4 separate regions of the Homo sapiens genome follow, and regions 2, 3 and 4 are each linked to region 1. Evidence: fine-mapped expression QTL. A gene starts in region 1. Each other region holds a variant in brackets. All regions are shown on one strand. Distances are from middle to middle. Region 1 holds the start of PTK2B (protein tyrosine kinase 2 beta). Region 2 overlaps TRIM35 (tripartite motif containing 35). Region 3 overlaps PTK2B (protein tyrosine kinase 2 beta). Region 4 overlaps PTK2B (protein tyrosine kinase 2 beta).

What was found. PIP is the estimated chance that this variant, and not a neighbour inherited with it, causes the effect.
Region 2: its variant is fine-mapped to the expression of PTK2B in whole blood (INTERVAL, PIP above 0.99).
Region 3: its variant is fine-mapped to the expression of PTK2B in neutrophils (Naranbhai 2015, PIP 0.95).
Region 4: its variant is fine-mapped to the expression of PTK2B in whole blood (INTERVAL, PIP 0.91).

Annotation. Positions count from the first base shown.
Region 1 is chr8:27,321,645-27,329,751 of GRCh38, reverse strand. PTK2B (protein tyrosine kinase 2 beta) reads right to left here and starts at 4,200. Exons shown (of 31, transcript NM_173176.3): 1 at 4,071-4,200. RefSeq lists a silencer at 2,117-2,313 and enhancers at 3,056-3,125, 2,471-3,300, 3,906-3,955, 4,006-4,155.
Region 2 is chr8:27,291,760-27,299,866 of GRCh38, reverse strand. TRIM35 (tripartite motif containing 35) reads left to right here. Exons shown (of 6, transcript NM_171982.5): 2 at 1,308-1,403; 3 at 5,557-5,787. Among named protein-coding and RNA genes, the nearest start is that of TRIM35, 15 kb to the left of the region's middle. The variant AC/C (reference allele first, on the strand shown) is at 5,044.
Region 3 is chr8:27,375,445-27,383,551 of GRCh38, reverse strand. All of the region lies in intron 1 of PTK2B (protein tyrosine kinase 2 beta), which reads right to left. Among named protein-coding and RNA genes, the nearest start is that of MIR6842, 54 kb to the left of the region's middle. RefSeq lists enhancers at 2,549-2,858, 3,109-3,168, 4,860-5,049, 7,427-7,556, 7,957-8,016. The variant CACACACACACACAG/G (reference allele first, on the strand shown) is at 4,937.
Region 4 is chr8:27,351,409-27,359,515 of GRCh38, reverse strand. The region is part of intron 1 of PTK2B (protein tyrosine kinase 2 beta); the gene reads right to left. Among named protein-coding and RNA genes, the nearest start is that of PTK2B, 30 kb to the right of the region's middle. RefSeq lists an enhancer at 7,205-7,264. The variant T/G (reference allele first, on the strand shown) is at 4,757.

The DNA of each region.
Region 1 (8,107 bases):
AGATAAGGCATATCAGTGTTGCAGAGTCACCACTATCCCTGCTCTTTCTCCTTAACCCTGGAACTGACCCGTACTCTACAAGGAAACTCTTCATCCTCAAGCCAGCAAAACTTATCTTCATCACCACACTTTCAGCCCCGGGCACGTCGCAGCTCTGCACCTCTACTCCATCCCCCAATGTGGCCATTTACCTGGGAGGCCAGGGTCACATGGTCCTGAGACATATGGGTCCCAGGCAGGGGAAACTAGAGACTGAGTGACCTACCATGCAGGGTAGCCCCAGGGTAGCCTCCCTCCCCTCCCTAGCCTCACCATCAGTTTCCTTTGTCCTAGCAGTATTTGGGGTACATGGAGCTACTGTCGTCACTATGGAGAGCTAAGTGCCAAGGGACTTGGACTTTCTCCAGGGTCCTCTGCACGATGAAACATGGCCGGATCTGCAATGGGAAGACTCAGGCTGATACAGGTGGGAGTTTGTGTCTCTGAAGGATGCATGATGCTAGAAAGATTGCATACAGCCAGACGCGGTGGCTCACACCTGTAATCCTAGCACTTTGGGAGGCTGAGGCAGGCAGATCATGAGGTCAAGAAATTGAGACCCTCCTGGCCAACATGGCGAAACCCCGTCTCTACTAAAAATACAAAAATTAGCTGGACGTGGTGGTGCGTGCCTGTAATCCCAGCTACTCGGGAGGCTGAGGCAGGAGAATCACTTGAACCCAGGAGGCAGAGGTTGCAGTGAGCTGAGATCGCGCCACTGCACTCCAGCCTGGGCAACAGAGTGAGACTCCATCTCAAAAAAAAAAAAAGGTTGCACGCAAGGGCTCCTTCCTTGAAGATCTTCTCTAAGTTGGACACTGCCTAGTCTAGAATGAATTAGGTCCATCCTGGCTAGAGTTATGAGAAGGGCTATGCCTTCTGAACGACCTGCTTGGTCCCCAAACTGCCCTCACATCAAGGTTCACTCAATGTGGAATGCTGTTTCCCTGAGAATGTGCATGGGCTCTACAGCCATCCTCAGGGAATGACACGTGTCTTTTTATGCAGGACTTATCATAACCTTGATCTTGCAAATATTCAAGACACATGTCCAAGTGCAGGCTCATTTGAACGTTTCATCAGTGGAACACCTCTATCCATCTCACGCCATAGGGTCTCTCTCAACACCACCTGGGCAAACAATCCAAGGGCCTGGGGACAAAATGTTTATCACAGGGGGATGGGGAGATTTAGCCACTGGAAAGAAGGACCATTTTTAACCTAGCCGTTCCCACAAGGGAAACACACTTTCCATTTCCTCTTTCTCTTAACGAATTCTTAACTTCCTCTAGGTTCCCTTTTAGGAGGACCCTAATTTGTTGTTACAAATGCTCCCATTAAAGTCAAAATCCAGTTCATAAGGCACCTTCACTTCCTCTATCTCTTAGCGCTACTTTTCTAATAAGGAACTCATCCTAAAACTGGGAATCATGACAGCCAAATTTCATGGCGCATTTGTCTGCGCTGAATATTTTATCTGGATTCTCTACTTTAATTCATTCACATTTCCCTTCAGTTAATTCTACTTTGAGTCACTCTCTGCCCACCCACCATCCCTCAAGAAGAGTGTTATATCTCCACCCCTTGAAGCAGGTCATATGGGAAGGGAGTAGCAAAGCTAAAAACATAATGCAGACTCTGTCCCCAACCCAAGGGCTAACCCCACGAGTTCTCACTGGAAGCATGAACCCTACTATGTATTTCACCTGAGACCTCCAAGTGCTCACTTGTGGAAGTAAATGAACCCAAGCACTCTGTGGCTGTTGCTTTGCTCAACCCTGTGAAGGTGTTGCAAAATTCAATATGTACCATGTTTCCTTTAGTACTCACTAGGCAATTTACATACATTATCAGGGATCCTCCCAACCACCTGCACAAACAGATACTCCTGCCCTCATTTCAGAAAAGAGGATTCTGAGGGTCAGAGAAGCTCACCGGTCTACATGGATTTGAACCCAGATCTGTCTGGATTTAATGTCGTTTTTTCTGAGGTACCATACTCCTTCACCTGTATAGATGAATAAACTGACCAAGGAATTGATTTTTTGTTTTTTAAATGAGCTCATAATAAAATCCAGGAGGAATGGTTACAAGATAGACCTGAGACTGTTCTCAGAGTGCCTGGGCAGTTTCCAGCCTTTACTTCACAGCATTGCGCCAACCTCAGCTTCTCCTAGAGTAGGGTTGCCAGATAAATACAGGACACCCAGTTAAATGTGAATTTCAGAGAAACAGTGAATAATGTTTGAGTATAAGTATGTTCCATGTAGTTCATGAGACATATTTGTAGTGAAAAAAAAAACCATTGAGTGCTTATCTGAAATTCAAATCTGAGTGTCCCGTGCTTTTATTGGCTAAATCTGGCAATCTCTTCCTGCTGGGAAGTCTCCTGCCTGGCTCCAGGTCCCAAGTGTTGCTCCAACAGAAGTTGCCATGGCAGCCTGGCAGGCCTTCCAAAGCCTTCTAGAGCAGTCTCCACTCACCCCTGCAGCTTCCCCTCGCCCCTGCACGCTCTAGGTTCCCAACAAGCCCAGCTACTTTCATTTTCCTGGATGCCGCCCGCTGCTTCCAGCCTCCTGCTGCTTTTAGCCTCCAGTCTCTGCACTTGCTGTTCTTTCCCCTCTTCTCTTGTGCTAATTTCTAGTCATCCTTCAGCTCTCAATTTGGAGTCACTTCTGCCAGGACGCCCTCCTGGCCATTGCTGACTGGCTCCCCCCACAGCCCTCTAGTGCAGGGTTGGATAGTACCCTGCACCTTCCCCTGGCAGCCCTCCCTCAACCACCCGGTATCCCACACTGCCCTGGTGAGCAGAGGCCATGCCACACTCACCTTGTCCCCACACCTTGCACCTGGCCGCAGGTGGGAAGCCAGTGAGTGCCTCCTGAATGGATGACTGCAGACTGTCCCACCAATGCTGGGGCTCTCCAGTGTGACTACTTCCTTCCTCCCTTCTGTCTTTAGTCACTTTTTCATCAGTGTCCTCCTCCCCCTCCCCCAGAGTGGTTGGGAAAGACAGGGCCTTCAGCAACAGCACTTGGGGTGAACAGAGAGCATCCCACGTAGAGGGGCCTCCCAGCACCCACCACCACATCACACCACGTGCACTGCCCCAGTGGGCTCAGACCCAGCCACAGCGCAGCTTCCGAGTTCCTCCTGGCTAAAGCCACCTCTAGGCACAACTTTCTGCTCTTGTCCTTCTGCTGGCTCCTTAAATGAGCGGACTTGGATTTTGCTCCCAGTTTGGGGTATAGGGAGATGCCAGTGTCATGTGGTCGAGGCTTAGGGCAGGTGGCAGGGCTTGCAGAACATCACCCATATGCCGCTCCACGCTCACCCACCCAAAGCGGTGCCCACGCGCAGCCTGACAGCAGGCAGAGGCAGCTCTGAACTTAACCCTTGAGTGGCACTCAGGAGGCGGCTTCTCAAGATACCAGAATGGCCAGTGTTAACTACACACACACACACACACACACACACACACACACATACACACGAGCTCCCCTGTGCCCCAGAACACCCTTGCTTTCCTCCAGCCAGGGCTTGATTCAGAAGATGACCTCTCAGGTGCAAGGAGTGGCTGCAGGAGAGTCAGGGTGGGCTGGGGGTGAGACTATAACCCCTGGGGCTGCGGAAGGGCCCGGGAGGGAGCGGGGAGCGGGGGCAGGAGCTGAAACCCCGTGGCTCCCTAACCTGAGCTTTAGAGGCAGCAGCCTGGCTGTGCCCTCACACCGTCACCCCTAGCCTCCCCCAGCCTCCCCTGTCTGAATATGTTGAGAGGACAAAGAGGGAGAAACACCCTATAGTGTCAAATTTACTCCAAAAATAGAACCCCTCTTCCCCGCGGAAGGCTGGCGAGCTCCGGGCATGTGCACAGCACCCACGGCTCCGATTTCCTGGGTCTGGCCGTTTCTCCGGGAACTCCCAGCTCAGGTGCCCAGGATCCCGGAATTGTCCCCAACCCCTGCCACCCGGTCAAGCCTCCAACTTCTGCCGGGCGCAGCGCTCAGCCCTGGCTCGCGGGAGGGACTCACCCAGGGAGGCGCGGACTCCAGCGACTACTCCTCGGGCACCGCCAGGTGAGCCGGGACGGCGGCAAGTACAGGTAAGTCGGCCGGGCAGGTAGGTGTGCAACGGCTCCGGAGGCTGTGGCTGAGTAAAAGGGCTGACAGGTTAGATTCTCCCTCCTCCTCTGAGTTGTTAACCACACCCCTGCTGCTCTCCTCCCCACTTCCTTAAAGGGTGGGGTGTGTTGTCTGTGTGTGCCGGCTCCAGCCTCTTACCATAAACTCTGAAATAGACGCTGCCACCAATTCCCTGAGCGCCGGGCAGACCTGGGGGGCGATCTCTGCCATTCCCCCGGCCGCAAATGGGATCCTCGGATGTTATGTGCCCCTTGTGAGCAGTTAACTCCCCAATTCCTAACACCCCTCCATCCTCTGTCCACTCCACCTGCAGCCTTTTGGAGGCCAAAAGGTGTGTGTGAGGTGGGTGGGGGCGCAGGGCGGGCGGAGGAAACCAACTTCTCAGGCTGGTTCTCCCAAGACCCCCCGCAGTGGGAGATGTTATATCTACATGGTACTGAGCACTTGTGTCCTAATCTCTCCATGTCCTAAAGTGGCCCCAGTCCCTTTGCAGGCATGAAAAATCATAAATACCACTAGGGATTTTGGCAGAACCGGTCCAGGTCCCTGAACACAGAAGACCAGGTCCCTGAGCTGTGACTAAGTAGGGTCTGAGGACAGCACAAGAATAGTTAGAGATGCTGGACAGCCCCTTCCAGGGGCCCCGCCCAGAGGCTGGTCCCCTCTTTCCTCAGGCCGGTGATATGTGAGCAGGCACTCAAGGGCACTTAGCAACACTTCTTCCCTATCCCTAGGAAAACTCCAGACTTGCTCCTGAGTAGGAGGAGGAAGTGACCTGGACTTGGCATAAAGTGAAAAAAGTGGAGTGTACGCAGCATCATCCTCATCCTACAATGTCCTCTCCAGAGCCCCTGTCCCAAGCTTCTTTATTCTGTGTCCTGTGCAGGATTGGAATCTGATTCCCAGAGCTGCCCTGTTGCACAATTCTAGAGGATGCTATTCACAATGTACTTTCTGAGAATGGCGCCCCCTGGAGTTGTGCTGAGGAAGCACTCAGTTTCCAAGATTGCACTGACTCCTTCCCATTTCTGAAAAGAAACTGGAGACTTAGATAAGTTAACAAAGCTAGGAAGTCAATGTTTCTCAAAGTATAATTAGTGGACTACCCATAGCTATTGGCTGGATGTCACTCTGGGTCCGATGAAGATCAGACTCTCTGCAGCTAGGGCCCACCTGCCCAGCATGGGGCTCACAACCCATTGATGGGCACTGCCAGCCTTGACAGCTGGAGCCCCCCCACCCCTTCCCATTTGTGCTATTCACAGATTTGTCACGTTCCCAGCACTCAGCATTTTGGAGGTAATCTTGGTGACTACACAGCGGTCAGCAGGTCAGAAGGTGGTCAGGTGGGAGAACTTGGCCAGGGATGGAGAGGCAAGTCAGACAGAGGTACACTGAAGTTAGCAGGGAAGGTGTGGGGATGAGGAGGCAGGTAATTGACTACATGGCAAGGACATGGTCAGAGGGCATCTGACAGTGGGTGTCCCCTCCGTATTCTTGCGCTTGGAAATGAAGTGATGAAGGCTGAGTGGCACAAAAGTTAGATACCTGGGTGAGTTGTTGAGAGTCTGTACTAGGAGGTGGCAGTGGGAACTAAAAGCAAAGACAATCAAGACCTGTTTAAGAAAAGGAGAGTTTGTGTGTGCTGCCCCTGTGTGGCCACATAAATGAACTACAATCTTATCTTGCTGGGACCAATTCTGGGAAAGGTGAGTTTTCAGAGGTTGTTGAATTCTTCAGCACTTTAAAAAAAGAATCTCCCAAATCTACCTCACAGAATCATAAACCCATAGCTTTTTAAATGAAAAAGACATTGAGAAACTCTCTGGGGTGGCCAACTCCGCCATCAGGTCTCCCTAGGTTCTGTCCAGTGTCATGTACAAGCAACTCAGGTGACAAGGTCATGCATTTCTGCCTGTTACTGCCTTTTAAAAAAACCCATCAGAAATGCCTCAGGAGCCCTCAAATTCCATGGAAATCCCTAAAAGACACTATCCATGGCGATGCTCTCCATATGGCATAAGTTGCAATAATGATCTACCCCAGTTAGAGAAGAAAAATATTTCCCTTCTACTTCTGTATCTCAAGCTGACCAAGTGCCATGTGGGAGGCCCTAATTGTGGGGGTGTTGGGGGGATGCATACCTGGATCAGAAGAAGGAGAAAACTGTAATGAAAAAGGCCTTTGAACAAATGTCCTTTCAGCTGCTGGACTCTTCCATTTGGATGTTCCACTCTTACCCCAAACTCAGGTCTATAACCCTGGCTCATATTGCTCTTCAAACAAGCCCCGTTCCAGCCCTCCCTGTGAATGTCAACAAAAGAGAAGTCACCTTTGACTCTCCCTCTCCCTCCTTACCCTGCAGCCATGCAATCTCCAATCTCTAAGTCCTGGGAGTCCCACAAACTTTTTTCCTATTCCTCGTTTTCTTTCCTGTCCTATTGACCCATCCTGGTTCAGGTTCTCTTTTCTTATCTTTTCACTAACTGGAGATCACAAAGGTGGTTGAGCTGGTGATTAACTTTTGGGATGGCATTTGAAACCACAAGAATGGATAAACTTGTCTAAGGCAAGAGTCAGAGACAGCAGAGGACTTCAAGTGAAGCTCTTACCAGGAGCAAATGAATGAAGAGCCAAAGGTCAAGTGGGGTGGGCTGATAAGTAAACTGAAAGTGAAGACACAGAGGCGGCACGCGCTGATGAGTCCTGGAAAGCTTGACTGCCAAGGGCAATTGAGACCAGGGGATATTGGAGGGGGTCGTGGGTTGAAAGAGGACTGATTTGTCATTTAGGATGATAGCCAGTAGAGCAGGTTTCAATGCTCACAGGAAGGATCCAGTCAAGAGGGAAGAGGTTGTGACTTTGGACATGCGAATCCATCTTTCTGAGCTTTTATTTCCTAATCTAGAAAAGTAGAAAAATAAGTATTATCTGTTCTACCTGTTTCCCAGGGTATTGTGAAGCCCAAATTAAGTGATAGGTGTACAAATGCTATGAAAAATTCTATAGCTATAATTTTTAGAAATGATAGCAATTAAAGTAAGCTTTATGGGGAGATAGTACATACATACCTGCCATATAGTTTATCAAGTGTTCACTCTGTGCCAAGAACTTTCATCTGCCGTCTAGCTTGTCTTCACAACCGTCTATGAAGTTGCTAGTCCTATTCCTGGTTTGCAGAAAGGAAAAGGAAGCTTGGATAAGGTAAATAAATTATTCACAGGCTCCCAGGTGGTAAAGAGCAAAACCCATCATTGGCAGGGCTGCGACATTATGTAACTGGCATCTCTCCATTGTAAATGATGGAATTTAAATTACATCATGTAAATTTACTATTATGTAGAATAAATTTTATTTTAAAAGAACAGTATGGTTATAAGTATTCTAACAAAAAAAATGGATAAATACAAAAACTAGCTGGGCATAGTGGTGTATGCCTGTAGTCCCAGCTCCTTGGTGGGGCTGAGGCAGGAGAATCGCTTGAACCTGGGAGGCAGAGGTTACAGTGAGCTATAATCATGCCACTGCACTCCAGCCTGGGTGACAGAGTGATAGTCCATTTAAAAAAAAAAAGGGACAAAGAAAAACTTATGGGTACAAGTACTGAAAAAAGTACTTCATCACCAAGGGATGTCTACCTCTAATTTAACCAGACATCACTATGTTTACGAAGTGGGCCACAGTTGAGGCCAAAATAAGTTGAGTATGGCTTGAATAGAACTCAAAATCATGCCCTCAACCTAAAAAAGAACTTTCTCTTTTCTTTCCTTAATATTGGAATCCCTGACTTTCAGATGGTCACAGCCTGCCCAAAATGAAGGCTACATTTCCCAGTCTCCCTTGCATGTGTGACCAGGTGCGACCATGTGATTAAGTTCTCCGCAATGGTTGAAGAGTAGAAGTTATGCACGCAACTCCAGAATCAT
Region 2 (8,107 bases), 30 kb after region 1:
GCCTGCCTGAATCTGTCCTTTGCCCCATAAGGAGTCATGTCCCTCCCACATGCAAAATGCACTGGCCCTCTCCCAAGCTCTCCAAACATCTCATCCCTTTACAGCATCAGCCCAAAGTCCAGATTTGTCATCTAAATCAGGTCCAGATGGGAATGAGGCTTTGGGCGACACATCTGTATAATTTATTGCTGCATATCCAGTCACCCCGACATTTAGCAGCTTAAAACACTCTCATCTCACAGGAGGGAGGGATCACTGGGTGCTGTCTCAGCAGCTGCCTCCATAGCTGTCCAGGTTCACGTCCTTCCACATACTAGCTGTGTGCCCTTGGGCTGGTCATTTCCCTTCTGTGCCTCACTTTCTCATCTATAAATGGGGCCAATAATATTACTTATCTACTAGGGAGAAGTAATGATTAAATGACATAATTTCTCAAGTAATTGGTGTTGTCCCTGGCACAGAGTAAGTACTGAATAAATGATAACCATTTATAATTATTTGAATTATTTTTCTTAAGAAAAAACTTGAGAAGCTTTCTGAGAATGTAGATCGAAAAGGATAATGAGGGAGAAAAAATGATAGGCCTAAGATACAAGAGGCAGGAATCCAACCTAAAACACTCTAGTGGTTCTTCAAGTTGTCCAAGGACATCAGAAACAATCATTAAAGTTTAAGAAACAAAAACTACTAAACCAAAAGTATTTGTGCCTGCTGATTAAAGTATTCCGTGCGATACAAGCAGTGTTAGAATGTCAGGATGCAGGAGGGGTATGGAGGGGCATGTTGGGCATGTTGAGGTGAGGCCTCATGGGAGGTAACTGAACCCCGTGGGAAATGACTGGCTCCACCCCCATTGTCAGTCACCTCACATTAGAGATTGCAGACCCATTCAGTTTAGGAAACTGCAGAGGGAACCTATGACCACACTGTCTGCAGTTGTCCACACAGCTCAGGGATTCAGACCCAGCATGAACCAGCTTTTGGCCCACATGGGACACTCTTCTGGCCTGTGCTGTGACCAACATGAGAGAGAGCAGCTTGCTTCTTCTCAGCCCCATCTCCCAGTCTGTACCAGGCTGGGCTACAGGATGTCTGAGGGCTCTTTATCCCATGGATGTCTGATTCAGGATCAGGACCTTACTTACCATTTGTGCCCAGAGCACTTGGCATGGATGGGGTTAGGCAAATGCAGTTGAGTTACACTTGTGTTGAAGTGGAGTCCCAGTTGTAAATGTGATGTGTCTGCCCTCTCTGCCCAGCCTCCAGCCCTAACCTGTCTTCCTCCCTCTCTCTCATTCCCATGTCAGGCCAAGTGCAGGAACATGGAGCATGCACTGCGGGAGAAGGCCAAGGCCTTCTGGGCCATGCGGCGCTCCTATGAGGCCATCGCCAAGCACAATCAGGTGAGCGAACGATGGGGCCAAGTGGGAAGATTGGGTCCACTCAGGGCAGTCTGGGGAGGAGTGAAGATGTGTCAGCCGTGGCTTTGGCTCACATAACCCGCTGGGTAGAGGTCGGCTGCCTTACCTCTGATGGTCCTGTGCAGCCACGTCCTGGATGCTGACTGTGGCTTCTCTGCCTTGGCCCCTCTAAAGACCCAGGCGTGGTCATGCCAGCAGCCACAGGAGTGACTTAAAAAGCTACCAACACCATCTGCACTATGGCACATGCATCATATCACTGCCACCTGTGTGTTCAATGATGACCTGGGACTCATGTACTTTCTTGTTTTCTTTCAGTTCCCACATCCACTCCATCAGCAATCCTATTCCCCTATCTCCAAAGTATGTTATTTCTGTAAAACCCTCCACCTTTTGGTCCAGGTCATCATCATCTCTCACTGGGCCTCCTGCCTAGGGCCTCATGCTTTCATTCTTGTGCATTCTCCTTTCCATGGACTGGGGTGATCGTTTAGAAAAAAACACCAGCCGTGCCCCTCCTCTGCTTAAAACTGCCAGTGGCTTCCAGTCACCCTCAGTACCACCCAGATTCCTTACCATGGCCTCCAAGGCCATCTCCTGACCCTGCCTATCCTCAACCTCATTTACTTCTCTGCCTCACCTTCTTTCTGTCCCTTAAGCAAACTAAGTCTTCTCCCCAGAACACATGCCCAGCATCTTTGCCATTAAAATCTCAGCTCAGATGTTCTCTTAAAGAAGCTTTTCCTGATCATCCTCCTCTTTTACTCGATGGCATAATTTCCTGGTTTATTTTCTTAATGACACTTCATTACCTGTAATTACCTTTTGTTTTCTATTTGCTTTTTATCCCTTCCTGTCAAAATATAATGAAAACAGGGCACACTATTGCCAGTTATCTAGAGGAGTTCTTGGCACACAATAGGTGACCAATAAAAATTGTTGATTGAATGAGTGAAGTGGGTAGGTGACCAATAACTGTTAATCAAATGAATGAGTGGGCTCCCTCTGTCCCCATTCTGGTTGTTCTGCCTGGCACCCTCTCTTCCTCCAGGTCCTGTGTGGATTGGCAACCTTGTTTCTGACTGTTGATCTTGGCTCTGGTCTTTGGCTTTCTGAAGTGGTTGCTTCTAGTAATTACCACTCTGTTAGACTCATCTTAGCCACAGCTGAGCCATGCCTGGTCCAGGTTGCTGGGCGCTGTCCTCAGGAGCCTGCGGTCCCCTCCACCATGTGTCCATAGGTGAGGATTAGTCCCAGGAAAGAGCCTCATTAACATTTGGCTGTGGAGTTTACCCTGAGCCACAGAGCTGGTGGAACAGTGTGGAAGAAAGGATTATGTGACACACTGGGTGCCAGGGCAGTAACCGCAAAGCAGACCTATTTCCAAATCTAAGCCCAGTTCCCCAGCAAATCCCTCAACCCCCTCCAAGCTAATCCCCTCCTCTGTAAAAAGAGGGCAATTCCCTTTTACTAGGGTTTTTAAAAAAAAATTTAGATAAGATAATGCATACAAGTGCCCAACAGAGACAAGTCCTTAACATTTCTGATGTCTAATAGACCAACAAACTGGTGGGAGAGAGTTTTCACTTTGTTCAGTAGATTATTTTGTCATCCGATGTCAGAGCCATAAATACATGTTGAAATTCCAACTCCAAATAGCGATTACGAACCTGCTGTTGCTGGAGTTTGTTGAGTTGTTTTTCCAGTAGTCATCGTGGAGTCATGTAGCTTTATCATTGTTCTCTTACTTGGTTTCCTTCTGTGGCTAAAGCCATATGACTGGCTTGCCTTGTACAGGACTGGGTTGGGGATACTTAGGGAGTATCTGTCTGTCTGTGTGGTGGCACTGCCTGCCCATCCCAGGGAGTGTAGGAGTCCTGAGCTTTTTGCTGAGGCTAAGGGTAATGAGGTCACATGGGAAGCCCCTAGAATTCCAGCCTGATTAGTACTTTTTCTATTAAATTCAGTTATCAGGTCGATGAGGAAAGTGAAAGTTCTGGTGTTTGTTCCTTTACAGTGAGGCCGTCATTGCCCACGGTGAGTGGGCAGGAGTTGACCTTGCACTTGCTGGTTTTTCCTGCCATGCTGTGTTCTTGATGTTTTTGTGTGATAAGAATTACTGGGGAGAGGGAGAGCATCAGGATAAATAGCTAATGCATGCGGGGCTTAATGCCTAGGTGATGGGTTGACAGGTGCAGCAGACCACCATGGCGCACATTTACCTATGTAACAAACCTGCATGTCCTGCACATGTATCCTGGAACTTAAATGTAAAAAAAAAAAAAAAAAAAGAGAATCACCCTGGATTCTACTCTCTCCAATGCAGACATTATCAGTCTTTTCAGCCTGATAGGTTAACCATGCTGTTTGTCCTCATTTGCATTTCTTTGATTATTGGTAAGTTTGTACATCTTTTCACAAGCATAATAGTCATTTATGCTTCTTCTGTGAATGCTAATTCACATTCTTTTTTTCCCTTGGAATATTTGTCTTTTCTCTTAGTGGATTTGTAAGAGTGCTTTGTACATTAATAATAATAGCCATTTGTCATAAATGTTGCAAATATATTTCCTAGTTTGTCATTTCTTTTTGAGTGGATCATTCTCAATTTTTTTGGCCATTTTCATTTTTTCAGTGAATCCTTTTCGTATATTTTCAGAGCTGTAAACATACACACAGTCCCTGGCTTATGATTTTTTGACTTTACTGTGGTACGAAAGCAATATGCATTCAGTAGAAACTGTACTTTGAGTACCCATACAACCATTCTGTTTTTCCCCTTCAGTACAGTATTCAATAAATTACATGAGACACTCAGTGCTTTATTATGACATAGGCTTTGTGTTGGATGATTCTGCCCAAGTGTAGGCTAATGTGAGTGTCCTGGGCACGTTTAAGGTAGGCTAGGCTAACCTATGATGTTTTTAGTAGGTTAGGTGTATTCATTGCTTTGACTTAACTATTTTTCAACTTATGATGGGTTTATTGGGATGTAACCCCATCATAACTTGAGGAGCATCTGTATTTAACTTTCAGTCCAAAGATGAGTTTACTAACCTGCCATTGCCACAGCACACATTTTGAATGGTTTTTCCAACAGTTGTCATGGAATTGTATTTTTGTCTTTAACTTTATGATAGTCTCTTGCCATACACACCTCTTATTTTTCTGTGTATTCAGTTATCTCATTCTTTCTTCAAGGCTTCTCAGTTTCATACTGTGCCGAGGAATGTCTTTCTTATTCCAAGCTGAGAAATATTTATTTGCTTTTTCTTTCATTACATTTATGGTTTTATCTTCCCTTTTAAAAAACTTTTTGTGAGGCTGGGCACAGTGGCTCACGCTTGTAATCCCAGCACTTTGGGAGGCCGAGGCGGGCAGATCACCTTAAGTCAGGAGTTTGAGACCAGCCTGACCAACGTGGCAAAACCCCATCTCTACTAAAAAATACAAAAATTAGCTGGGCGTGGTGGCGTGTGCCTGTAGTCCCAGCTACTCGGGAGGCTGAGGCAGGGAAAATTGCTTGAACCCAGGAGGCAGAGGTTGCAGTGAGCCAAGATCACACCACTGCACTCCAGCCTAGGTGAAAGAGCGAGACTTAGTCTCAAAAAGAAAAAAAAAA[AC/C]AAACTTTTTGTGGTTGTGATTTGGAGTGTGTATATTATTTTAATGATTGTTTTAAAATGAATGCTTCCTACTGCTCTTTTGGTAAAGCCTCTGGATCAGACAAATTTTAAGTCCTAAGATTGGAAGGTAAATACTTAAAAAAAAATCATTGCTATTCGCAGCCATTCATTTCTATGATTCAGGACTTCCCTTGTTATGGTGCAACCTAAAGAAGGAACTGAACATTGTATGTAGATGAGGTTATAGTACTACAGTTGCCATCTATATAAGCTGTGATTTTATTTTTAAAAACCCTGTCAAAACAATCTAATATTAGGTTGTTGGACTTTCCCATTTGAAATCGGAACTTAGAAATTTGTGCTTATAAACTATTATGTTGATATTTTATCTGTAGGGGTTCTATACATGATTTATTTGAACATAAATTTCCTTTGCTAAAAATGGGAAAGTTGCTGGGCTATGGATGTCCTCTCCACATCTGACCCCTGACTCCTCCTGCTGTCTTCCGTAGGTGGAGGCTGCATGGCTGGAAGGCCGGATCCGGCAGGAGTTTGATAAGCTTCGCGAGTTCTTGAGAGTGGAGGAGCAGGCCATTCTGGATGCCATGGCCGAGGAGACAAGGCAGAAGCAACTTCTGGCCGACGAGAAGATGAAGCAGCTCACAGAGGAGACGGAGGTGCTGGCACATGAGATCGAGCGGCTGCAGATGGAGATGAAGGAGGACGACGTTTCTTTTCTCATGGTAAGGAGCTCAGCGTCTGGATTCAGTGACAGGGCCACATGTTCCAGGACCAGCTGGGAGCCATAGCCCACCAGCCCTGGCCAACGTCATCTTCCTGGAGCTTCCTGGGTACTGGCCTGGAGGAGCTCACAAGTAACCTGCTCTGCTTGTGTCATGAAACTAAAAAGACTTATCAGGGCGGAGTTCCTTGAAACCCTGTTATTTCTTCCTCGCTCTTCTTTTTTTTAGAGACAGGGTCTTGCTGTATCACCCAGGCTGGAGTACAGTGGGTGATTATAGCTCAGTGTAACCTCAAACTCATGGGCTCAAGTGATCCTCTCTCCTTAGCCTCCTGAGTAGCTGGGACTACAGGCACGAGCCACCATGCCCAACTAATTTTTTTCATTTTTTACCAGTCAGGTAGGGGTGAGGGGGGTCTCACTATGTTGCCCAAGCTGGTCTTGAATCCCTGGCCTCAAGTGATGCTTCCACCTTGGCCTCCCAGGTAGTTGGACTACTGGCGCACCACTGTGCCCAGCTCCTGTCTCTTCTTTCTTCCTTTCTCTTGCCCTCTCTCTTACTCTCATTTTTTTTCCGGTCTCTACCTTTTAATAAGATGAATTCTTTTAAAATCATTCAATTATTTAAATTTTTTATTTAAATATAATGCCTTGGCTTTCTGTCTTCTTAAGAAAAGGATGATTCCATTCTCTCTTTAAAAAAACAGTATTATTCATTTTTTTTTCCTTTTATTGATTTATTTCCTCCCCATGAGCCAGTGGTCCTTACAAATTTCCTACAGGGAAATTTCTGGGCTCGAAAGCTGGTCTGTAAACTGGCCAGGGTGGTGAGGTGTCTCTTGTACCTGGAAAACAGCTGACTGCTGTGGAAGGGGTGTCGCTGTAGAGTGGAGTGGGAGGCGACAGGGACAGTTATCTGTTCAGGCAGTGTCATCTCCTGGGTGGGTCCTTTAGGAGTTCTCCACCTCACTCAAAGCCTGGAACCATGAAGTCTCCTGTCTCAAAAATGTCCCTGATTATGAAATCATTCTGTGTTCAGAGCTGTCTCTAAAAAGAAAAATGAAGAAAAAAAAAAAAGAAAAAGAAAAATCATTTTGTGGGATCTAAAAGCTGTGTGTCTCGAGGATTCTGTTTAGGGAATTGGGAGTATTGTCTGCCCAGTACTCAGAGTGCTTTCAGGGATGATTTTGGTTTGTGACTCTTTTTTATTTTTTATTAACAACTTTATTGAGATATAATTTACATGCTAAACAATTCACCCATTTAAAATGTACCACTCAGTGATTTTTAGTATATACAGAGTTGTGCAACCATCACGACAATTTTAGAACATTTCATGCCTCCAAAAGCAGCCCTGCTTTAGCTGTCACTCCCCAGTTCCTCCTCCCACATAAAAACTGCTACCGAAATTGAGTCTAACAGAGTGGTAATTACTAGAATTAGCAGCCCCTGGCAACCACTAGTCTACATACTATCTATATGGATTTACCTGTTGTAGACATTTCAAATGCATGGAATTATATAACATGTAACCTTTTGTGACTGCCTTCTTTCAGTCAGCATATTTTGAAACATCATTCATGTTGTAGCATCTATCAGTACTTCATTCTTTTTTATGGCTGAATAATATTCCATGGCATAGATATATAATCATGCACTTCTTAGTGATGGGGATATGTTCTGAGAAATGTATTATTAGGCAGTTTCTTCATTATGCAAGTGTCATGGAGTGTGCTTACAGAAGCCTACATGGTGTAGCCTACTGCACACCTAGATTATATGGAATAGCCTTTTGCTCCTAGGCTACAAACCTGTACAGCACGTTGCTGCACTGAATACTGTAGGCAACTGGAGCCCACTGTTAAGTATTTGTATATCTAAACATAGAAAAAGTACAGTAAAAAACAGTGATATAATCTCATGGGACCATACCATAGTCATATATGTGGTTCCTTGTTGACTGAAACATCGTTACGTTGCACATGGCTATATTATATTTTATTGATTGATTTATCAATTGGTGGTTGCTGTGGTTTAAATATGTTCCCCAAAATTTATGTGTTACAAACTTAATCCCCAATGCAACAGTGTTGGGTGGTGGAGCCTAATAAGAAGTGATTGGGTCATGAGAGCCCTCATGAATGGGTTAATGTTGTTACTGGCAGAGTGGGTTAGTTATTGAGAGAGTGGGCTTGTTATAAAAGTGAGTTTGGGCCCCTCTTGCTCTCTTGCTCTTGGTCTTATGTGTAGTCTCTTGCCCTTCTTCCTTCTGCCATGGGATGACACAGCATGAGGGCTCTCATCAGATGCTGGTGCCATGC
Region 3 (8,107 bases), 54 kb before region 1:
CGCGGTGGCTCACACCTGTAATCCCAGCACTTTGGGAGGTCAAGGTGGGCAGATCACGAGGTCAGGAGCTCGAGACCAGCCATTTCGAGACCAGCCTGGCCAACGTGGTGACACCCCGTCTCTACTAAAAATACAAAAATTATCCAGGCCTGGTGGCACGTGCCTGTAATCCCAGATACTTGGGAGGCTGAGACAGGAGAATTGCTTGAACCAGGAGGCAGAAGTTGCAGTGAGCCACGATTGCACCACAGCACTCCAGCTTGGGTGACAGAACAAGACTCCATCTCGGCGTGTGTTGGGAGAGTGGGGGGGTGGGAAGAATTAGAAGAGGACACACACACAAAATGGAAAAATGTTCCATGTTCATGGATTGGAATAATTAATATTGTTAAAATGACCATACTACCTAAAGCGCTCTACGAATTCCATGCAACCCCCATCAAAAGACCAATGATATTCTTCACAGAAATATGATAGAAAAGACAATCTTAAAGTTCATGTAGAATCAAAAAATACCCCAAATAGCCAAAGCAATTCTGAGCAAAAAGAGCAAAGCTGGAGGCATCACACTACCTGATTTCAAAAATACTACAAAGCTAAAGTAACCAAAATAGCATGGTACTGATATAAAAACAGACACACAGACAAATGAAACAGAATAGAGAACCCAGAAATACATCCACATATTTATAGCTAACTGATTTTCAACAAAGATGCCAAGAACATACATTGGGAAAAAGACAGTGTTTTCAATAAATGGTGCTGAAAAATCTGAATAACCATATGCAGAAGAATGAAACTAGATCCCTATCTCTCACTATACATGAAATCAACTCAGAATAAGGACTAAAATGTGAGATTCAAAACTATAAAACTACTAGAAGAAAGCAGGGTAAATCCTTCGGGACATTGGTCTGGGCAAATATTTTGCAGGTAAGACTTCAAAAACACAGGTAACAGAAGCAAAAATAGGCACATGGGATTAAAAAAAAAAACAGAGACAGCATCTCACTATGTTGCCCAGGCTTATCTTGAACTCCTGGCTTCAAGCAATCCTCCTGTCTTGACCTCCCAATGACAAATGGGATTGTATCAAGCTACAAGCTTCTGCACAGCAAAGGAAACAACTGACAGAGTGGACCAGGCAACCTGTAGAATGGGAGAAAATATGTGAAAACCGTTCATCCAACAAGGGACTGATATCCAGGATACATGAGGAACTCAAACAACTCAATGGTAAATAATAATAATTTTTTTTTAATGAGCAAAGTATCTGAAAGGACATTTCTCAAAAGAAGACATATAACCAGGTGTGGTGGCTCACACCTATAATCCCAGCACTTTGGAAGGCCAAGGTGGATGGATGACTTGAGGACAGGAGTTCAAGACCAGCCTGGCCAACATGGGGAAAGCCCCTCTCTATTAAAAATTCAAAAATTAGCTGGGCATGGTGGTGCACCTGTAATCCTAGCTACTCCAATGGCCGAGGCACGAGAATCATTGGAACCCAGGAGGCAAAGGTTGCAGTGAGCCGAGATCATGCCACTGCATTCCAGCCTGGGCAACAGAGTGAGACTCCGTCTCAGAAAAACAAAGAAGACATAGAAATGGCCAACAGATAAATGAAAATATGCTCGATATCACTAATCATAAGGGAAATATGAATCAAAACTACAATGAGATAGCATCTCACCCAGTTAGAATGGCTATTATCAAAAAGACAAAAAATAACAAATGCTGGTGAGGATGTTGAGAAAAGAGAACTCCTAAACGCTATTGGTGGGAATGTAAATTAGTATAACCATTACGGGGAACCGTATGGAGATTCCTCAAAAAAACTACAAATAGAACTAGAACTACCATATGATCTAGCAATCCCACTACTAGGGATTTTTTCCAGAGGAAATTAAATCATTATGTCAAAGAGATATCTGCACGTCCACATTGATTGCAGCACTACTCACAATAGCCAAAACAGGAAATCAACCGAAGTGCCCATCAACAGATGGAGTGCTATTTAGCCATGAAAAAGAATAAAATCTTGTCATTCACAACAACATGGATGAGCCTGGAGGATGTTATGTTAAGTGAAATAAGTCAGGCACAGAAAGAGAAATACTATATTTTCTCACCCATAGGTGGGAGCTAAAAAAGTTGAGCTCACAGAAGTAGACAGAATCGTGGTTATAATAGGCTGGGAAGGGCAGGGTGGAAGGTGGATGGAGAGAGGTTGGTTAATGGATACCAAATTAAAGCTAGATAGGAGGACTAAGTGCTAATGTTCTGTAGCTCTGTAGGGTGACTAGAGTCAATAATTTATTGTATATTTTTAAATAGAAGAGAGGATTCTGGATATTCCCAACACAAAGAAATGATAAATGCTTTCCATGATGAATATGGTAATTACTCTGATTTGATTATTACACAGAGTATACATGTATTCAAATATCATTCTGTACCCCATAAATATGTACAGTTATTATGCATAAATTTAAAAAATTACTAAAATTAAAAAAATCAACTCTCTTAGCCAATCTGAAGTATCTAATACAGCATACTTAGGTACAGTCACCATGCTGTGCATTAGATCTCTGGGACTTACTCATTCTACGTAAATAACTTTGTCCCCTTTGACCAACACCTCCCTCTTTCCCCACCTTCCTAACATCTCAGGTGATTCTGGTACCCACCCGGTGAGGCTGAAGAATGGCTGGCTTGGCCCTCAACTCACTGTGAGAACTGAATCGAGAGAGACTTACTACATGGTGAGGCCTCTCCACTGGGACCCAGGTCTCCCAGTTCCCAGGCTGCAGGCCTCCCTCCCAGGGCGGAGCTCGGCAAACATTTGGTGCCACGATGGATCTCAGGGAGTGACAAGTCTCAAAGGCAGGCCCTTCCTGGGTGTCTCTGAGTCTCTTATTTTAGAGCAGAGTTGTGGTTTCAGTTTTAGTTTCTTGTCGTTACCCAAGCCCTTTATTGGGAAAAAAGGCGCTTGGGTAAAAAGAGAAAAAAAAAATAGGTGTTTTCAATCATTCAGCGTTCAGAAAATTTGGGGGAACTTTGGCCTTTAAAATTCCAGCCACGAGGCTTCCAAAGTAGGGAAACCCTGCATGTGGTAGCGAGAAATCCCCCTGCAGGCAGCTCTTCTCTGGCAAGTCTCCCCTGGCACAACTCACATGGTAGCAGGAGTTTTCCTCCCTGGTGAAAAACATCAAATAAAATACAAAGGGAAAACCCAGCTGAAAATTTCCTGAGCAAGGTCACAAAATGACTGCTATCCTTTCAGAAGAAAGGTAGGAGAAAAAGGTCTCAGGGATCCAAAATCAGACATGAACACAGCACCAGGAAGCCAGGGCTGGGCAGAGAAAGACGTGACCCCGAGAGTCTCCTGTGGATCATGATGTGAGTAGCAAGTCCCTGAGAATAGGAGCTTATGGACAGAAAGCTCAGCAATGTGTCGTCCAAACAATAATAAACAACAATAACAAAAACAACATCAAAAAAGCACAGGGCCAGGTGCAGTGGCTCATGCCTGTAATCCCAGCACTTTGGGATGCCAAGGCGGGCAGATTGCCTGAACTCAGGAGTTCGAAACCACCCTGGGCAACATGGTGAAACCCCGTCTCTACTAAAATACAAAAAAATTAGCTGGGCATGGTGACGGGAGCCTATAATCCCAGTTACTCAAGAGGCTGAGGTGGGAGAATCGCTTGAGCCCAGGAGGCAGAGGTTGCAGTGAGCCAAGATCACGCCATTGCAGTCCAGTTTTTTTAGATACCATCTCAAAAATAAAATGCACAGATTTTTCCCTGCGATGCTGTTCTCACCTGGATGGAGAGACTCACTCGTAAATTAACTTGCATGTGCTAAAAGGTAAGTAATGAGGAGACTACTTAGGCATATTCAATTAAGGGAATATGAAGATTCCAGAGATTATATGCAAATTATCTATGGAAATGTGCTCCTATGGTTACAGCTGAGTTGTACACTGAAGGAAAACAGAGAAATTAAAACAGCTGTGGTAGGCTGGGTGTGGTGGCTCACGCCTGTAATCCTAGCACTTTGGGAGGCCGAGGTAGGTAGATCACTTGAGCCCAGAAGTTTGAGACCAGCCTGGGCCACAGGCAAGACTCCTATCTCTACAAAAAATTTTTAAAAAGACCCCGGCATGGTGGCATGTGCCTGTAGTCCCAGCTACCCAGGTGGGTGAGGTGGCCTAGGAGTTCAAAGCTCAGTGAGCTATGACTGTGCCATTGCACTCCAGCCTGGGCGACAGAATGAGACCCTGTCTCCAAAAGCAAACAAAAAACAGTGGTTGCAGAGAGGAAATTAAATGTTCCCTTTTAATGTTGGTTTGATTTCCATGATACATCTAAAGACTCACTTCGGCTACCTCTTTAAATACATTAGACCTAAGCCTGAAAAGAATGAGAAGCCTGCGACCTACTTCCAGCTCCCAAGCACTGACATTCCCCATGCAGCCACGTTGGGAACAGGGCAGTCAGAATCCTGAATCCTGGGTTTCATCTCTATAAAAATCGGGCATCCAGCTCCCCCGTGTCGGATGTGAGTCTATGTTTGGCATAACGGTGCCGGGGCCCTTTCTTCCTTTAGCTCTTTGTTCATTGAGGTTTCTGAAGCACACAGGAAGTCAGAAAAAAGAACAGCAACCCACTTCTCCACAGCCTCACCACAGACAAGAGGCAGCAGGGAGGAGACAGCCAGTGAGGAGGGGAACTGTGTGCTGCTCTCCCCTAGCTCCACTTGGGGTGGGGGATAAGATGAAGCAGGTGGGAGTAGAGTGTGGGGGTTATGTCTACACCCCAGTTTTCAGGAGCCCCAGAAGGAACCAAGTTCTACTTTTCTGCTTCTATTGACAGAATATTCTGATTGCCTTGTGTACACACACACACACACACACACACACACACACACA[CACACACACACACAG/G]ATAAGCTGTAAGATTTTATACTCTTGAATCATGTGCAACTTAAACCCCAGAGCAACACTCGGATAACTTGGAGACATCACCTTATCTATCTGACCTCAGCTTTTCTCATCTAAAAAGTGAGGGGATTAGGTGAGGGGATTAGGTGAGAGGGACGTTCTTCCAACAGTCTTGCATATGAATATTTCATACTGTTTAAAGTGATCGTTCAGCTCCTGAAGTGGTTTATTTCTTCATTGTTTGGCTGAAAATACTTCCATATTTGCAGAACCCCCCTGAATCCCTCACCATAGCCCAAGATTCCTTAAGGTCTGGGCTAAAGCCCCTGGACTAGATTTGATGCTTCCAGGATCATTGTCTTGGTCTATAATTCTGGGAGCTAAACTCGTTAGCTACAAGGAGAGACCTTGGTTGTTGAGGGAGATATGAGACAGTGGAGGGAAGAAAAGGTGAGGGAGAGAAAAGCAGAAAGAAAGAAAAAGATAGAAGGAGATATTGATAAAAGAGAAAAGTAACAACTAAGATTGTAAACTCACCAATGGCAGGAACCAAAGCTAAAGGGAATGTCAGATAATTTGTTTTTACTTCCCTCGTTTTTACAAGTGAGGGAACCAAAGGTAGGGATGTTCCCTTCCCCAAAGTAAATGCCCTGGGGTGTGCTAGCTTTCAAGTAATCCCTTGAGGACTGACTATGCAGGTGATGCCAGGAATAGTGTTAAGTAGGGGAGGAGGTTTACATTTTCCAGAACCTTCTCCACCTGCACTCAACACCTCCTAATCTTTACCTGTGAACTGTGCTCTTGGGGGAGGCTCCTTCCAGCTAGAGATAATGTGCCCACCTGTTTAGAAATGGAGTCTCCATTTTAATGTAATGGCGCCCTTCAGTAAAAATACCCTCCCGTGACACAGGCAGTGCATGTGACAGAGAGCTCACAGTGTACTAGCTCTTTGTCTTCTCTCCTGCCTCCGGAGGTGGCCCTGGCCCCTTTACAGGAAGGAGACACTGGCTCAGAAAGGGTTAAGACCACACTCAGCTGGAGACAGAATCAGGACTAGAACTAAGACCTCCCCATGGCAGCCAAAGAAGGATGCCAGGTGTGCAAAGTTCTTATCACACTGGCATGAAACAAGCACATTTCTGGAGCTCTGTCATGGCCCAGTCTAATCATCTGGGACAAATCCTGTTACCTCCCTGAATCTCAGTGTACGTGCCCATAAAATTGGGCATGTTAGCACTATCTTTCCCAGAACTGTTGTGAACATGAGTAAAAATAATATCCATCATGTACGTGGTAAACTACACATACCCAACACTGAGTGTTGGCCGTGATCACAGATCACCCAAGTTCCTCTGGTTCCTTCAAGCATCTGCATATTTCAATGACAGGCGCCCCTTTTGGCAAAAACAACCTATCTATTCCATTTCTGGTTGGTTTTCAGTACCAAAGAGGTCTTTCCTAGGATATGTTAAAGGAGTTTTTCTACACCTTTTACCCGCAGGGGGCAGCTCTGCCTCTGGAGCTGTGAGACACAAGTTGCACCCTCCTCACTCCCACTTTGCACAGCGAGTCTCTGGTTCTAAACGCAGGAGTGAAAATGTTATAGGAAAGGGGTCCCGATCCAGACCCCAAGAGAAGTTTCTTGAATCTCACACAAGAAAGAATTGAGGGTGAGTCCATAAAGTGAAAGCAAGTTTATTAAGAAAGTAAAGGAATAAGAGAATGGCTACTCCATAGACACAGCAGTCTTGAAGGCTGCTGTTTGCCCATTTTTATAGTTATTTCTTGATGACATGCTAAACAAAGGGTGGATTATTCATGCCTCCCCTTTTTAGACCAGAAATTTTAGATCAGGGTAATTTCCTGACATTTCTATGGCATTTGTAAACTGTCGTGGCACTGGTGGGAGTGTAGCAGTGAGGATGACCAGAGGACACTCTCATCGCCATCTTGATTTTGGTAGGTTTTGGCCGGCTTCTTTACTGTAACCTGTTTTATCAGCAAGGTCTTTATGACCTGTATCTTGTGCTGACTTCCTATCTCACCCTGTGACTTAGAATGCCTTCATCATCTGGGAATGCAACACAATAGGTCTCAGCCTCATTTTACCTAGCTCCTGTTTAAGATGGAGTTGCTCTGGTTCACATGCCTCTGACAAAAAGAAACATGAGGGTTTGTGTGGTTCAAGATCATTCCAGTCCAGGCCCACCTGCTGCTCAGACACATTTTAGTCCCAACCTCAAGAAGCCCACAGGAATCAATTTGGACAAGATCTGCTGACACCAGTGATGATCACCAGAAGTCTCCAAAGACTGCTCCCTCCCAGAACGGCCAATGGCACTAGTTGGGGTGGGGGCAGCCAAGCCTATTGGTCCTGCCCAGATTGGCCTGGCCTGAACCCACTCTACAGCTCCCTGTTGTCTGGGTCTAGGTCTTGGGTTCTGAGGACTTTAGACCTGAATGGGCTTTGAAGGTCAAGCACCCCTGGACTCTCTCCCATGGCTTTACAGCCCACACCTGGGGCTCCTGTCTGATGCTTCGTCCACTCTGAGCTCTGGTCTCTGCTCAGCCTCAAGCTGAGGTGGCAACCACAAACCTCTTCATCCCACAGCACGGCTGAGCAGACTAACCTCCCACTCTTGGGTTCTATTCTCGGCTGTCAACATTGGCATCATGTGTCAAGTGCCTAATTGCATGGCCGTGTGCCTGGTGAGGGGAATGAAGGCTCCAGAACACAGGGTACCCTGCTCACCAGTGCAGCCCACGGCTCTTCTGAGAACAAACAGGTCGTACAGGCAGAATACTAAACCAGACATAAGTGGACATGGCACGCTTCTATATAGCTGGGGGCACCCGTGCATAACTGGGGAGGAGGGAGGTGCCCACTCGGGGAGAGGCACATGGGACAGGGAAAGAACACGGCCCCCGGAGGCAGGAGACGTGGGGTCTGGTTCTCAGCCCTTCACTACCTAGTAGCTTATGACCAGGAGGCAGTCAATGAGAGCACTGTAGGATTTAACACTGGAAGGGTCTGGTGGATTCTAGGACCTGGATGTTCCTCGAGGGAAACACATATGTTCTGCCCTGGATCTACAGGTCAGAACTAGTGGGTGGGGCAAAGGGATCTTTATTTGAACAGAAATGATGATGGCATGCTTTG
Region 4 (8,107 bases), 30 kb before region 1:
ACCCACCTTGAGAAAGGGGCAGCAGATGCACGTTATAGATTAGAAAATCAAGAACTGAAGTAAATGGAATAACTTAAGACAATAAAAAGTATATTTGCAAGGCCAGGTGCAGTGGCTCACGCCTGTAATCCCAGCACTTTGGGAGGCTGAGGCAGGCAGATCGCTTGAGGTCAGGAGTTTGAGACCAGCCTGGCCAATATGGTGAAACCCCTTCTCTACTAAAAATACAAAAAATTAACCAGGCATTGTGGTGCATGCCTGTAGTCCAGCTACTCGGGAGGCTGTGGCAGGAGAATTACTTGAACCTGGGAGGTGGAGGTTTCAGTGAGCTGAGATCGCGCCACTGCACTCCAGCCTGGGTGACAGAGCAAGACTATGTATGTTTCAAAAATATATATATTTGCAATATCTAAATAGAAAAAAAAGAAGGTATGCAAAGTCCAAGATAATAATCCTAATGGCTAAAATGGGGAGGGGAGATGTTGAAAAGAAGATAATACTATAATACCAGTGGACAACAGTTTGGGACATGAGAAGAGAAAGATTAGAGTCAAAGTGCCATAAAATCCTTCCAATTTGGTAAGGAGGATAATGATATTGATTAATGTTAGACCTTAAATTCAAGTATGTGTTAAAAAATTAAAATAATAGAAACCTATTATTAGGTTTTATTTTTAACCTATTTTTCCATTAAAATAATAGAAACCTAATATATAACTTCTAAACCAATAGGCTACAAGAGGAGAAAATAATAAACACATAATCAATACAGTGAAAGGCAAGAGGTGAGAAAAGGCAAAGATGAAGCATGGCAAACAAAATAATGTAGTATACATATACTAAATATATTAGAAGTCTTAATAAATAAAGAAGCTTAAATTGCCTGTTAAAAGACAAAGACACTTAGACTTAATTTTTTAAAAATCCAGCTATCTGTAGTTTACAAGAAGCAAACCTAAAAACATTAAGACATCAAAAGTTAAAAATAAAGAGACAGAAAAATATAAACCAGTTACTAAGTGAAAGTTGATATTGATATATAAAATAGCAAATAAGATTTGAAGAAAAACATTAAAAATATGATTATGAGGAATCATGTTAAAAAGGAAAAATTTGCCAAGAAGTTACAATCATAAGCTTATATGCACCAAAACACAGACAATTAAAAATATAAAGCAAAAATGGACAGAAATGCAAAAAGTATTGCTTCTTTTCTTCTTCATGGTTTCATTTGGCCTGAGTGCTACAAAACTGTGTAGCAGTCAACTCAACTGAGGATGGCTTAACTCAGCTGAACCTACAGTGCAGAGCTATATCCACAGCCCTGTGCTGCCCTGGGGGAATTTAGATGGTTCTAACCAATCTACCAAGGAGGGGAGCAAAGAGTGAGGATGAAGAGAACTAATGAGAAAAAGGGAACGTCTACTATGTTTAAGACATTGTGCTAAGAACTAAGTAAACCTTCTTATGCAACCCCATAGAAATCCAATGAGGTTGGCTTGGTTACCCCAATTACTACTAGTAACCCCAATTTACAGAGTAGAAACCGAGCTTCAAAGATATTAAGTGACTTTTCAGAGGTCACATGACTGGGGAGCTATAGAGTCTAAATTGCAGTCATCTGACATAATCTCCATGAGGCTAGGGACCATATTTTCACTCCATATCCCTAGCATGTAAAACTATGCCTGGCACAGATTAGGCACTTGATAAATATCAGATGAATGAATGAATGCAGCTGTAATTCCAAGCCTGTGCATTTTCTATTATGCCAGAGCACCTACTCTGTTATCTCACTTACTCTTGGCTATCTATATCTTTATCTCACTCAGATCTCCTCTTCAAAAAAGGCATCTCCTCTCTCTAACCTGACCCATTTCCCCTCTCTCATTCAGAGTTGACAAAGGAGAGAGAAGAAAGCCCAGTTTCACAACAAGAGACCCAATTTCCTTCAAAGCTGGTGGTTGGGAAATGATGCTCCTGATAGCGGTTAAGGGAGATGGCAGGCACGGGGTGGCCCCCTGCACTGGAGATTTGCAAGAAAATGAATTTCCCATTCTCTTCTGCTGTCAGTTGCTGGTTACCTCCCTATCCTACAAGATCATGAGAAGACCCCTGGAAATGATGTGAGGACCATGAGGGATTAATATTTAAACACCAACTGAAGTGGCTCTGGAACCATACAAGTGGTGAGAAAATTCTTGGAGACAGAAGAAGTGTCAGAGGAATTTTAATTTGTCAGTATTTTTTGTACTTTTTATTTTGAAAGAATTATAGACTCACAGGAAGTTGTACAAATAGCACATAGAGTCCTGAGTACCCTTGACTCATCTTCCCCTAATGGGAACACCTTGTAGAATAATAATATCAAAACCAGGAAACTGACATTCATATAATACTGTGACTGAACTACAGACCTGATCCCATTTTCATTATTTTTTTTACATGGATTCATTCGTATGTGTGGGTGTGTGTGGTATGTATGTAGTTCCATGCAATTTCATCCTGTGAACACACTCATGAGACCATCACCACAGTCAAGATACAGAACTGTTTCATCACCGTGAAAAGACTTCTTTGGGTTACCCCTTTTAGACACATTCGTGCCACCACCCATCTCCACAACCCCTAGTTTGCTCTCCATCTCTACAGTTTCATCTCTTAAAGGATGTGATGTCAATGGAATCATACAGTATGTGACTTTTTGAGATGAACATTTTCTTCATTCAGCATAATACCCTTGAGATCCATCCAGGTCGTTGCCCGTGTCAATAGTTTGTTCATTTTCATTGCTGAGTAGTATTTCATGGTGTGAATATACTAGTCTCCCATTAAAGGACATTTGCATTGTTTACGTTTTTCCGCTATTGACTGCAGCTCTTTGACAAGAGGGCTAGTCCTGCTTCAGGCTGCAGAGCCTTCAGAATTCCTGGTGAGCAGTGAGGATCTATACTGCATTCCATGAATTCACTGGCTTTTCAGCTGCAGTTCATCAGAGCCTTCAGAATTCCTCGTGAGCAGTGAGGATCTATACTGCATTCCATGAATTCATTGGCTTTTCAGCTGCAGTTCATTCTTATCAATCCTTCAAGTTTTAAGTAAAACACCAAGTATTCTGTGAAGTCTCTGTGTTGATAACCATCTCCCTGGCCAGACTCTTGCAGCTTCCTTACAATCCCATAGATGTCCTTTACTCTTTGCCCTCAGCTCTGGCCCAGGGCCCAATACGGTCAGTAAGCATTTGTTGAATCAATAGATCAACAGCAAAGCTGTCATCACAGTCTTTTCCTAATACAGGCCACCCCAACCTGCGATCATAACACATTGCTGGAAGCCACATAGAGAGGGACTGTCATCACTAAGGGGGCCATGTTTTCTTACTTGAACAGTGTTGTAATTATAATAGAGATAGAGCCACCAGTAGGGCTCTCAGACGGCTCCAAGGTGTTACTATTCTAGTATTCTAGATAATACTGGAACTTTTTTTTTTTTTTTGAGACAGTCTTGCACTGTCGCCTGGGCTGGAGTACAATGGCATGATCTTGGCTCACTGCTACCTCTGCCTCCCGGGTTCAAGCAATTCTCGGGCCTCAGCCTCCCAAGTAGCTGAGATTACAGGTGCCTGCCACCATGCCCAGCTAATTGTTTGTATTTTTAGTAGAGACAGGGTTTCACTATGTTGGCCAGGCTGGTCTCAAACTCCTGACCTTGTGATTCACTGGCCTCGGCCTCCCAAAGTGCTGGGATTACAGGCATGAGCCACCATGCGTAGCCTCAAACTTCTAAATATATAAGTGTATTTCTACAGATCTGATTATTTCACTAGGAGAGAAGCCTAGAGCTAGAATTACTGAGTCAGAAGGAATACACTCATATTTCTTAGTACATGCTGCCAAGTTGCTCTCCAGAAAGGTAGCTGTATTGGTTGCCTACTATTGCTGTAACAAATTACCACCAATTTAGTGGCTTAAAACAACACTAATTTATCTTACCATTCTGGTGGTCAGAAGTCCTAAAACCAAGGTGCCAGCAGGGTTGACTTCTTTCTGGGGTGCTAGGGGAGAATCCTTCTTCTTGTCTTTTCCAGCTCCTAGAGGCTACATTATTTGGCTCGCGGTTCCTTCCTCCATCTTCAAAACCAGCAGCATAGTGCCTTACAATCTCTCTCTTGTCTCTCTTCTCTCTCTCTTCCCTCCCTCTTTCTGACTTCTGCTTCTGTTGTTGCACTGCCTTCTCTTACTCTGACCTTCCTGCCTCTCTCTTAAAAGGACCCTTGTGATAACATTAGGTCCAACCGGATAATCCAAGATAATCTCCCCATTCCACTATCCTTAACTTAATTGCATCTGCAAAGTCTCTTTGGCATGTAAGGTAGCACACGCACAAGTTCTGGGATTAGGATGCGGACATCTTTGGGAGGTTGTTATTAGACAGCCTGTAGCAGAGTATTAGAGCTAATGCTCCTTTTGAATAAGAACAAAGTATAGTCTGGGGAGTTAAGAGGCAGAATCAAAAAGAGTCGTTTACTGTAAGAACATCATTCCCTCAAGACTGAAGAGCAAGGTGGTTTTTCAGCTCTAGACATAAGCAGTATAATAAAAATATCATCCTTGAAAATCAGGGATGATTCCGTCGGAAGACCATCCCTAATATTGACATTGGGTTCCAGCCCAGGAGAGACAGAACAAGGAGCAAACACACAAATTGGTTGGTGAGATCCTACAAGCAGGCCAATGAGACAAGGAAGGCAAGCTCA[T/G]TTACCTTCATAGAATAACAATCATCAAACAGCCCAGCGGTATGTAAATGATTTATTGACATATACTTCACACCCTCACTACCTGTTCTTTCTGCAAAGTTTTATTTTGTTCCCAGCTATAATTACACGCTGCCATTTTTCAAGCACTTCGGATGTCACTATTTTCCTGTTTTCCAAGTTTAACAGTCCTCCCAACAGTCAACATACCTGCCGGCCGCAAATCAAAAACTGCTTGCACATAGATTGCAGGTGACCTCAATTGTTTCATCTGTCTGCAACGTCTCCTTTCCCTGCTTGGGAGAATTTCACTGGCTTTCTTTGTGAGACTGTTCCTCCTCCCAGGCCAGCCTTGTGTGCTAGTGGAGACGGCTCATCACAGAACACCATCTCCTCTTCCTCCCCGTCCTGGCCTGGACCACAGGATGGGGCACATTAATCAAGAGGAAGCAAACACAGTACCCCACCCTTTTGGCTGTGGGGGTTAGTCCAGAAATGGACACACGATCTTAGCCAAACTAATCAGAGTTATTCTTTGGCATTTTTACTTTAGCTTGGGGAAAAGGGCTTTTCTCTGGGTGATAGGGCTATGGCTGGGAGCTCAGACACCATTAGCCACCAAGTTCCTTTCTTTTGGCACAAGTTGTTCTGAAAGAATTAAGCCAACATGTAATGACAGCCAGAGATGTGAGAGACAGAAGCAGAGGCAGAGGGGCAGACACAGAGATGTCTGAGGTTCTGGGATGAGGTCCTGATTCCCACCACACCTGAGTTCAGCTGCTTCCTGAATCTTCCCTTAATTTGGGTATGTGAGCCAAGGTGAATCCTCTCTTTTGGGTTTCTGTCATCTGCAACTAAAAGAGTGCTGGGACAATAAACAGGGGTGTGACACCTGCCTTTCCCTGCTTCATCTTCAATAGCAGGCCCATTTCTGCTGAGGCTCTTTGTCCCCTGCTCTTGGGAAATATCTTACAGAGCCACCCATAGTCAGGTCTAAGTGACTGATAAGGTTTACGGAGTTGGCACTCCAGGCTATTAACCTTCATGCAGCTGAGCAGTAGAAATCGTGCCTCCTGAACAGCCTCCCCTGGGAACAGCCCTACCCTAGTTGCCTCATCTGTTCAAGTGCTGTCTTGGTCTGCCATTACTAGGTAGATACAGGGCTGTGCTATGGTGACCACAGGATCAATGTGTGTGTGTGTTAGAGAGAGAGCGAGCATGCATGAGTGAATGAGTTAGGAGCTGTGTTTACTCACACTCACAGATCAGCGTGTGAGGGCATAGTTAGGCCAAGCTGGGCCTTTCCTATCCCATATGAAGAAAGGACAAGGAGGAGAAAATTTCACAGCAGATTGGTAAGCAATGCACCCTGCATCTGAGATGTCCTAGCAAAAAACAGCACTTTCTTGGACAAGGAGTGCCATCCCAAAGCCAAGGGTGACTGACTAGCCTGATGTGGTATCTCCCCATCCACTCCCTACTGCCCTTGAGTATTGGAGAAAAACACAGCCCCCAACATTAACAGCCCAACTGGTATGTAGCTTATGGCAAACTTATACCGTAAATCTTCTGGGTCTCTTCTGTAGTGGACGCTAAATATTTTTGGATTGCTAACTAAATATTTTTGCAATTAATCCCCTTTAATCCCAAGACTAGATGAGCAGTCCCGTGAAAATGTGGTTCTCCACTTCTCTGTATCCTTTAGGTGACTGTAGCCTGGGCTGGCTTAGGTGAAGGAGACCCCCATACTCTTTATTCAATCCTTTGTAACTGTTCTTGTTATGTAAAATGCTACAGTTCTTGTTCTAGAATCCATCCCCTTGAGTTTAGAATAATAATGTATTAGTCCATTTTCACACTGCTGATAAAGACATAACTGAGACTGGGCAATTTACAAAAGAAAGGGGTTTAATTGAACTTACAGTTCCACATGGCTAGGGAAGCCTCACAATTATGGCAGAAGGCAAGGAGGAGCAAGTCACGTCTTACATGGATGGCAACAGGCAAAAAGAGCTTGTGCAGGGAGACTTCCGTTTTTCAAAACCATCAGATCTCACAAGACATATTCACCATCATGAGAACAGTGTTGGAAAGACCTACCCACATGATTCAATTACCTCCCACCGGGTCCCTCCCACAACACATGAGAATTCAAGATGAGATTTGGGTGGGGACACAGCCAAACCATATCAAATAATGTGTATCCAAATAAGTGAAAGCTCCTTTCATAGCTGATTCTATAGCAAAAAGAAGTTTACAAGTGTAGGCTGGCCCAGATGACCGCCCCCCCTCCACCCCTGAAGACGTTAAGTAGATTGTGGTCTTGCTCCAACAAGCATTTAGAAGAGGTGAGATGGTTGGGAGGCTTTTCCTGTCTTTTGCTTTTGTTTTTTGCAGGAACACATGTTGGCCTTTCCTTGGCCTTCCATGCGTCATGCCTACACTGGAGACTATGAATTCTATAGGTGAGTAGGTGGGTGAAAAAAGCACTTTGGCAGCTTATCAAGATACGTGCACAGCACTGCTTTAGAAAAAGTAATGGGGTGATGGGGAGCCACCAGCCTTATGAATTGGTGAGAACTTTGAAAGCTAGAAGAGTCAGGGACAGCAGCGCTTGGAAGAGCAGAAGGGTGTTTGGTCAGCTGGGGAGAGGACAGGCAGCCCCCCCGCCGTGGGTCCCCTGAGTCAACCATGATGGGCACAGCAGAGCCGCTGCTGTCAGCTCCCTGCCCAGAGGAAGTGAAGCCCAAACAGCAGCCTGAGTCATATTTATTGAAGAGACCATGGGAACAAAAGCTGTAGACAGGAGCTTCTGCGGGGGATGGCATTCAAACTGCTTTTACCATCCCATTAGCAGTTTCTCTTTCCCTCCAGTGGATGGGCTACGTGGGAAGTGGGTTACGAAAGTCAAACAGAGGTTCCATTTTCACATTGCCCTTCAACGGGTGGTTTTAATCCTACATAACCAGGTGTCTTTTGAGAGATTTGCTGACTGCTGACATTTTAGGTGTAATGTTTCCCCATAGATAAGTCTATGTTTTATTCAAAAGATAATGTTGATGAAATTATCCTGGAGATTGTGAAATGTTGAAAATGGAAAGTTTTACATTGCAAAGACTAGTTGGAGGCATTAGTACACTTTTATTTATTTATTAATTAATTTATTTTTTTTGGTAAAGGATATTTTTGGAAACTCAGTTCTAGCCTCAGATGGAATCCATTAGGACCAGTAGAGGGATGGAAGTCAACAGATTCAGGGTCTAGACAAATTCTTTGTCTGTGTGGCTGTGGAACCTTAGGTAAGTCACTTTTATGCTTTCTTATTTTTGTATTTTTATTTTAAAGGCAAATGGA